3 separate regions of the Homo sapiens genome follow, and regions 1 and 2 are each linked to region 3. The links come from fine-mapping of genetic effects on gene expression. A gene starts in region 3. Each other region holds a variant in brackets. All regions are shown on one strand. Distances are from middle to middle. Region 1 has its middle 15 kb from the start of SELENOK. Region 2 overlaps IL17RB (interleukin 17 receptor B). Region 3 holds the start of ACTR8 (actin related protein 8).

Evidence for each region. PIP is the estimated chance that this variant, and not a neighbour inherited with it, causes the effect. A credible set is the group of variants that fine-mapping cannot tell apart.
Region 1: its variant is the best candidate, but not a certain one, in a credible set for the expression of ACTR8 in monocytes after LPS (Quach 2016, PIP 0.81).
Region 2: its variant is the best candidate, but not a certain one, in a credible set for the expression of ACTR8 in lung (TOPMed, PIP 0.74).

The regions. Positions count from the first base shown.
Region 1 is chr3:53,905,586-53,908,443 of GRCh38, reverse strand. No RefSeq gene overlaps it. Among named protein-coding and RNA genes, the nearest start is that of SELENOK, 15 kb to the right of the region's middle. The variant A/G (reference allele first, on the strand shown) is at 1,559.
Region 2 is chr3:53,860,408-53,862,907 of GRCh38, reverse strand. All of the region lies in intron 10 of IL17RB (interleukin 17 receptor B), which reads right to left. It also overlaps a transcript of ACTR8 not described here. Among named protein-coding and RNA genes, the nearest start is that of IL17RB, 15 kb to the right of the region's middle. The variant T/G (reference allele first, on the strand shown) is at 1,474.
Region 3 is chr3:53,880,739-53,883,542 of GRCh38, reverse strand. It overlaps ACTR8 (actin related protein 8), which reads left to right and starts at 1,391. Exons shown (of 13, transcript NM_022899.5): 1 at 1,391-1,564. The coding sequence starts at 1,442. RefSeq lists silencers at 1,175-1,264, 1,655-1,764 and an enhancer at 1,425-1,504.

The sequences.
Region 1 (2,858 bases), 25 kb before region 3:
TTTCTAATTTCATTCCATTGTAGTTACAAAAAATACTTCGAATGATTCCAATCTTTTAAAAGGTATTAATACTTGCTTTATGGCCTAACATATGTCTATACTGGAGAATGTTCCATGTGTGCTTGAAAAGATATGTGCTCTGCTGTTTTGGCATGGTGTATTCTAGAGAGGTTCGTTAGGTCTAGTTGGTTTAGTGCTGTTCAAGTCTTTCATTCTCTTGTTTATCTCTGTGTATGTCTTCTTGCCAGTATTGAAAGTGGGATGTTGAATTATCCAACTATTATTGTTGTTGAAATGTCTATTTCTTTCCTCACTTTTATCAGTATTTGCTTAATACACTTTTAAAGTCTATTTTGGGGTACATATATGTTTATAATTTTTATACCTTTTTGGTGTATTGATTTATAATACTTATCAAATATCCTTGTTTTCTACTGATAATTTTTGTCTTAAGGTTTATTGTATCTGATATTGGTATAGTGGTTCCAGTTTTCTTTTGGTTACTGTTTGCATGGTATATCTTTTTCCATCCTTTTACTGCCAACTTATTTGTGTACTTAAATCTAAATGTGTCTTTTGTAAGAAACACAGAAATCATTTTTAAAAATGTCTTCTGCCAATCTCTGCCTCTTAATTGAAGTGTTTATTTACATTTAATGTAATTACTGATAAGGCAGAGCTTATTTCTACCATTCTGCTATTTGTTTTCTATATGTCTTATGCCTTTTTGATTTCTACTCCTCCATTACTGACTTCTTTTAATTCCCCTGTTGCTTATTTTATCATATTTTAAAACTTATTTTCTTAGTAGTAGCCCTGGGGATTACAATTAACACCTTAACTTTTAAAACTCTAGTTTAAATTAATGCTAACTTAATTCAAAAATATACAAAAACTTTGCTCCTGTATGGTTCCGTTTCTTCTCCCCCCTTGTGCTGTTACTGTCATATAAATTACACCTTTTTTTACATTGTTTGCCTATCATTACAGATTTTATAATTATTGTTTAATGCACTTATCTTTTAAATTAGTTAAGAGGAAAAAGTTACAAAAATATACTTACACTGTGTTTTTTATTTACCTATGTAGTTACCTTTACTGATTGTAGAGGGGCAAATGGTGGCCGCCTACAAATATGTCCATGTCTCAAACCCCAAAACCTATGAAAATGTTACCTTATTTGAAAAAGAAAAAACAAAAGATCTTTGAAGATGTAAGACAGTTAAGGATTTTGAGATGAGATCATCCAGGTGGGCCCTAAATCTAACAAGTGTCCTTATAATACACACACACAGGAGAAGACAGACGCAGAGGAAAGGGTGATGTGAAGACAAGGCAGAGATTGGATTGATGTAACTATAAGCCCAGGAATTCTGGGCAAGCCATAAGAAACTGGAAGAGGCAAGGAATGGGTTCTTCCCTTGAGCCCTGGAAAAAATGTGTCCCTGCCAGATTTTGAATTTCTAGCCTCTAGAACTGTGAGAGAATAAATCTCTGTTGTTTTAAGCCACCCAGTTTGTAGTAATTTGTTACAGCAGCCCTCAGAAACTAACACACC[A/G]GTGCTTTTTATTTTTCATGTGGATTTGAGTTATTGCTTACTGTCCTCTCATTTCAGTCTGCATTAATCCCTTTAGTATTTTTTTGTAGGGCAGATTTTAAAGCAATGAATTCTCTCAGGATATGTTTATACAGGAATGTCTTATTTTCTCATTCATTTTTGAAGGATAGTTTTTCTAGATATGGAATTCTTGATTCACAATCTTTTTCTCTCAGCACTTTGAATATATCATCCCACTGCCTTCTGGCCTCCGTGATTTCTGGTGAGAAATCACGTGTTAATCTTATTTAGAATTCCTTGTGTGTGATGAGTCACTTCTCTTTTGCTGCTTTAAAGATTCAACACAGTTTGATTATCATGTATCTAGGTATGGATTTCTTTGGTTTTATTTTATTTGGAGTTATTTTAGGTCTTGGGTGCATAGACAAATATTTTTCATCAAACTTGAACTGTTTTTGGCCATTATTTCTTCAAATATTCTTTATCCCTCTTTCCCACCTCTCTTTTGAGACTCCCATTATGCATATGTTTGTATGACTGATGGTGTCCTACAGGTCTCTAAAAACTGTTCACTTTTCTTCATTCTTTTTTCTTTATGTTCCTTAGATTGGATAATCTCAATCTATCAAGTTCACTGATTGTTTCATCTGCCTGCTCAAGTTTGCTGTTGAGCCACTCTAGTGGATTTTTATTTCAGTTTCTATATTTTCAACTCTAGAATTTCTATTTGGTTCTCTCTTCTTAAACAAAATTTGATCTCTTTATTGATATTTCTATTTGTCAAAACATCAGTCAATCAGTCATACTTTCTTTCTTTTTTTTTTCTTTTTTTTCTTTTTCTTAAACAGCATCTCATTCTGTCGTCAGGCTGGAGTACGGTGGTGTGATCTCAGCTCACTGCAATCTCCACCTCCCAAATTAAAGTGATTCTCCTGCCTCAGCCTCCCAAGTAGCTGGGATTACAGGTGTGCACCACCACACCCAGCTAATTTTTGTATTTTTAGTAGAGACAGGGTTTCACCATATTGGCCCAGATGGTCTCAATCTCCTGACCTCGTGATCCACCTGCCTCAGCCTCCCAAAGTGCTGGGATTACAGACATGAGCCACCATGTCTGGCCTTTTTCATTCTTTAGACATTGCTTGCTTTGCTTCTTTGCTTTGCTTTGCTTCTTTGCCCATAAATCTTTTTTTTCTTTTTTTTTTTTTTTTTTGAGGCAGAGTCTCAATCTGTTATCCAGGCTGGAGTGCAGTGGTACAATCACAGCTCACTGCAGCCTTGACCTCCCAGGCTCAAGTGA
Region 2 (2,500 bases), 20 kb after region 3:
CTCAGTGTAACTTTACAGAAAGACATCATAATTTCTGGCTTTTTTGCTTTTTCATTTTTCTAAAAATATTTGTATATGGTACCAATCCTTCCTCCACCACTTGCTTTAGGTTTAATGCTTGTATCATAGAAGGGTCTGTGTTACAAAAGAAGTGAAAAGCAGTCTTGACTAATCAGAAACCTGCCAGATTGTTTAATGTCGATTTGTTTTCTGATGCTGCTGCTTCTGTGTCGTCTTCATCATCACCTCACACTGATGGGGAAGCACTCGTCTCCAGCAGGTTGTCTTCTCTTTGTTCCTCTAGTGTGGTTATCTGTTAGCTCTTGAATTTCTCCAAGATCCGTATCTTGAAACCCTTCACCCCCCACCTTTTTTGCCACATCTACAATCTCTTTCCTTGATTGGCTCTGTTGTAAATCCTGTGAAGTCATGCACATCATCTGGACAGTTTTCTCCTGCAGGAATTTATTGTTTCAGGCTTGATGGCTTTCATGGCTTGCTCTGTCACAATGATGGCATCTTCAGTGATGTAATTCTTCCAGACTTCCATGTTGTTCTCTCTGTTGGTGTTCTCGTCCATAGTGTTGACAATCCTTTCCATAAAGTACTGTGTGTAATGAGCCTTGAAGGTCCTTATGGCCTCCCAATCTAGAGGCCAAATTATGATGTGTTTGGGGGCAAGGAGACCACTCTGAGGACTTTAGTGTTGAACTCATGGGGCTCTGGGTGGCTGGGGGCATTGTCCAATATCAAAAGAACTTTAAAAGGCAGTCGCTTCCTGGGAAGGTACTTCTGACTTCAGGGACAAAGCATCAGTGGAACCAATCCAGAAAAGTTTTCTCAGTGTCCAGGCCTTCTTATTGTACAACCAAAAGATTGGCAGCTGGTGTTTATCTTTTCCCTTCAAGGCCAGGGGGTTAGCAGCTTTATAGATAAGGCCAGTCCTGATCATAAACCCAATTGCATTTGTACAAAGCAGTCCAGTTAGCCTGTCCCTTCCTGCCTTAAATCCTGATGCATGCTTCTCTTCCTTACTAATCAATGTCCTTTGTAGCATTTTTTTCCCAGAAGAGGACACTTTCATCTGCACTGAAAACCTGTTCAGGCAGGTATCCTTTCTCCTCAGTGATTTTCTTAATGGCATCCGGGAACTCACCTGCTGCCTCTTGGTCAGCAGAAGCTGCTTCTCCTGTTATCTTGACAGTTTTTAAGCCAAACCACTTTTAAAAATTATCAAACCATCCTTTACTGGCATTAAATTCTCCAGCTTTAGATGCTTCACCTTCCTTTTGCTTTAAGTTGTCATATAATGACTTTGCTTTTTCTCAAATCATATTAGAGTCTACAGATATGCCTTTCTTACAGCAATCCTGCACCCACATAAAAGCTACATTTTCAATACAAGATTAAAAGGTATTCTGCAAAATGTGCAAGGTTTTCATGTCTGCTGGTGTAGCTGTAGTGATGGCTTCA[T/G]GAATTTTTTTCTTTTTTGACTATGGTCCTTACGCTGGATTCATTTATCTTGAAATGGTGAACAATCACAGCTGCAGACCCTCAATTTATGGTACATATCAAGCAATTTGGCTTTTTTTCTTGTAATGAAAAAAAAAAGTTTTTTTTGCTTTTTTTCATGACACTGCTTCTTGGGAGCACTGCCAGCATTACTAGTGGCACTTCGTATGGGTCCTAAGGTGTTATTGAAGGTTTACGATATTGCACTAAACACGAAAAATACCAGAGAACCACTGGAGATACTTTTTACTGTGATATGTAATTTACTGGAGACAGGAACTGCTCGTTTGGAGATGGTTAGCATCACAGGGTGTTTTAAGTCGATACTTGCAACCCTTGAGCTCACCACAGTAGCAACAGGAGGTGGCTAGGAAATTATTCACAGCAGGACAGTACGCACTGCAATTAATTGTATGCAGTTATGATTTAATACCACATCTTTATGCTCACGTTTCTCTCAACTGTGAATGGTGCCATGTACAGTTGGTATGTGTGTGTTTAAGTTTTGATAAATTTTTAACTTTTAATAGTTAAAATAGTTAACTATTGGTATGGTAGGAAATGATAAAGTAGACTAGTATCTGTATACATTTTCTGCATTTATGACATACCTTTTTCTTCATTTTTTTCAATATTTTAATTGAAAAGTTCATCCGAGTTTCATCTAAGTTTTTTCAAAGTGATACAAATCTCCAAAAAATTTTCCAATATATGTATTGAAAAAATCCAGGTGTAAGTGGCTCTGCGCAGTCCAAACCTGTGTTGTTCAAGGGTCAACTGTGTATGAATCCAAGCGAAAGCTTTTCTTAACACCTCATAAGAACTATTTTTTAAAAAACAGGAACTAGCATAGAGTAACCATCACAGGTAAAGTGTAATTTGTTATCAGCCATCTTTTGCCCATTTCAGTACTGGTAGAAGGCTCAATGGTAAAAATAAAAACGGGACAGTCAGAAGATCTGGAAGTCCTGACCCTGCTTTCACCTGG
Region 3 (2,804 bases):
TATCCCACTTCACTCACCTGTAAAACGGGGATTAAATTTTTACCTCCAAGAGTTCTTTATTTAGTATTTAGTCATCACATGCTTATTGGGCACCTACCATGTGCTGAAGATAACTGGCAAAGTCTCACGGAGCTTACATTCTAGTGTGGGAGACAGTGAGCAGGCATGATAATTACAGACTAATGCTTCATGCTTCAAAGGGAATAGGATGATGAGAGAATAACTGCGGAAGGCCTGAGGTGACATTTGAGTTCAGACGTGAGAATGAGACAGCTGAGGGAAGAGCATCCAAGGCAAAATGAACAGCAAGTGCAACAGCCCGATGACGGGAAGGGCTTGGCATGTCTGAGAAAGATAAAACAGGTGTAGCTGGAAATGCCAAGGAATGGGGAGAGTGTTGTGAGGTGAACTTAGAAATGTAGCAATAACTAGATATGGTCTTTAGGTGGTGGTTAGTTTAGATTCTGTTCTTTGAGCAAAGGGAAACCATTAGAGTTTAAAGCATGAGTGACATCTAATTTTTGAGGTAAGTCTTAGTGGAGTGCTGGGTACATAGTAGTATTAACTACGTAATATTTTAAAACAACGTGGGCAACTATATAAGAACAGATCATAGGGGGACAGGACAAGGAGTTCGAGTTAAGAGGCTGTTGTAGTCATCCAGGTGAGATGATAGTGGCTTGGGCTAGGTAGTGGCATGGGAATGGAGAAGTGGATGAATTCAAGATCTATTTTAGAGACTGCAGGATTTACTGATGGATTGGATGTAGAAGCTGTCAACAAGTGAAGAATCAAAATGACATTTACTGAGATGGTGAAAGTGAGAGGGGAGGGAATCAAGAGTTAAATTTTGGACATATTTAAGTTTGCAGTGCCTTGTAGACAATCCAGATGGAGAGACCAAGTAGGCACTGGTTATCAGTACGGATCTCTCTGAGCGGTTCATCCTGGATATATATATTTGGGAATCGTATTCATTGCTAAAGCCAGGAAACTGGATAGTCACCCAAGGAGTGTGCCTGGAAAAGACCTAACCCCAACATCAGAGGCTGGACTGAACATGAAGACATATGAGAAAAACTAAGAGTACATATGGTATCTGGGAAGCCAGGAGAAGAGATGCCTGTGAGGACGAAATAAGATGCGGGTTATCAGCCGACCCCCACTAGGCGCTCGAAAAGCTATGTGTACTATGTTGCTGGCATCTACACAGTCAGGACTAATCACAGCAACACCCACCCAATCAATCCGCATGCACACCCCGCCCCCAGCCCCTGCGCCGGGCAGCCCCACCCCCGCCTTTTCGGAGCCCTCTGGGGCGACTCCGCGGCGGCCATCTTGACTGTGGGCAGCCGGCCGTGCGCCTGCGCGGTGGCCCTTCCATCCCGGCAGTCGTGGCTGCAGCGCTGAGGCGAGAGGTTGGTGGGTGTCTCCGGCCATAATGACCCAGGCTGAGAAGGGTGATACGGAGAACGGAAAGGAGAAGGGCGGCGAGAAGGAGAAGGAGCAGCGCGGCGTGAAGCGGCCCATCGTGCCCGCGCTGGTGCCGGAGTCGCTGCAAGAGGTGCGGCTCTGGCTGGGTTGGAACTCTTTGCCCTTGCTTGGGTCCTCCGCTGCCAGGCAAGGGGCGGGAGGCGGCGGGAGGCTTCGAGTCCCCCTTGCAGGCCCCAGCCCCTGGTGGGGGGAGTGCGGAAGCGGTCGTTCTTTTCCGGGTGGTGGCGCGCCGGGACGCCGAGGGCTGGGAGGTGCGGAGCGCCAGGAGCCAGGCGGAGCCCCCGCAGGGACACCGCTCCGATCTCCCGCACGCCCCACCGTCTGGTTGTGTGCGCTCCTGCCCGGGCTCTGGCCTCAGCTTCCCCGACCATAAAACGACCACGGTGATAACCAGCCGCCTCGCAAGTTGCCGTGAGGGTTAAATGGTGGCAGATAGAGTTTAGGACCAGGCTGGCTCACTGGGAGCGTCAGCCTGTGCTTGTTAAGGGATAGTTTGGGGTCCAGGCTTTTTCCTTTGTTAAGGAAATCTCAGATAATGGAAGTCATTTCAAGCTTAAAAGCAAGGAAATGGTGGACATTTGTCTAAATATATATTAAGAGCTTGTGTATCAAAAACAACACTATTAGACCAAACTAAACTAACCAGAAAAAATTATTTGCAGTAGCGTGCCTGGCAGAGGACCTTAGATGTATACACATACACAAAACCTTACTGATCAGTAACTAAAACAGCATTCACGTAGGAAAACGGGCACAGGCAGTGTACAATTCACAGAAGAAATGAGGCATAAACTGCTCAGAAATTCATGTAGGACATCTCTGATCCAGCTTCCTTACCGGTAGATGGGTTAAGGATAATACCTAACTAGTAGGGCAGCTACTAGTTAGTTATCACTAGTATGACAGTGCCTGGCACACCGTAAGCCCAGAGTGGCCATTACTGTTGCACAGGCCTGGTTTCTCCATCTGTCTAGTTGAGAAGGCTGACTGGATGGTCTGTAAGGGCCTTGCCAGATCCTTCCCTCTAGGATTCTCCCACTCTGTGGGGGGTGATTAGGAGGAGAGAGGTCACACTTGGAGATAGGACAACAGGTATCAGAGCATGGCATGGAATGGGCTTGTGCAGAGGGCAGTATTGGGCACTCAAGCAAGTACCTCCTCCATCCCCGACAGTCAGGGAGGGTTTCTTCAAAGGAGGTGAGGTGACATCTGTTTAGAGTCCTGAAGGTGATTAGGAGCTAACCAGAGGGAGGAGGGAATCTCAGGGAAGAAGAACAGTGTGGAAGACACTTGTGCCAACAGAGGATGTG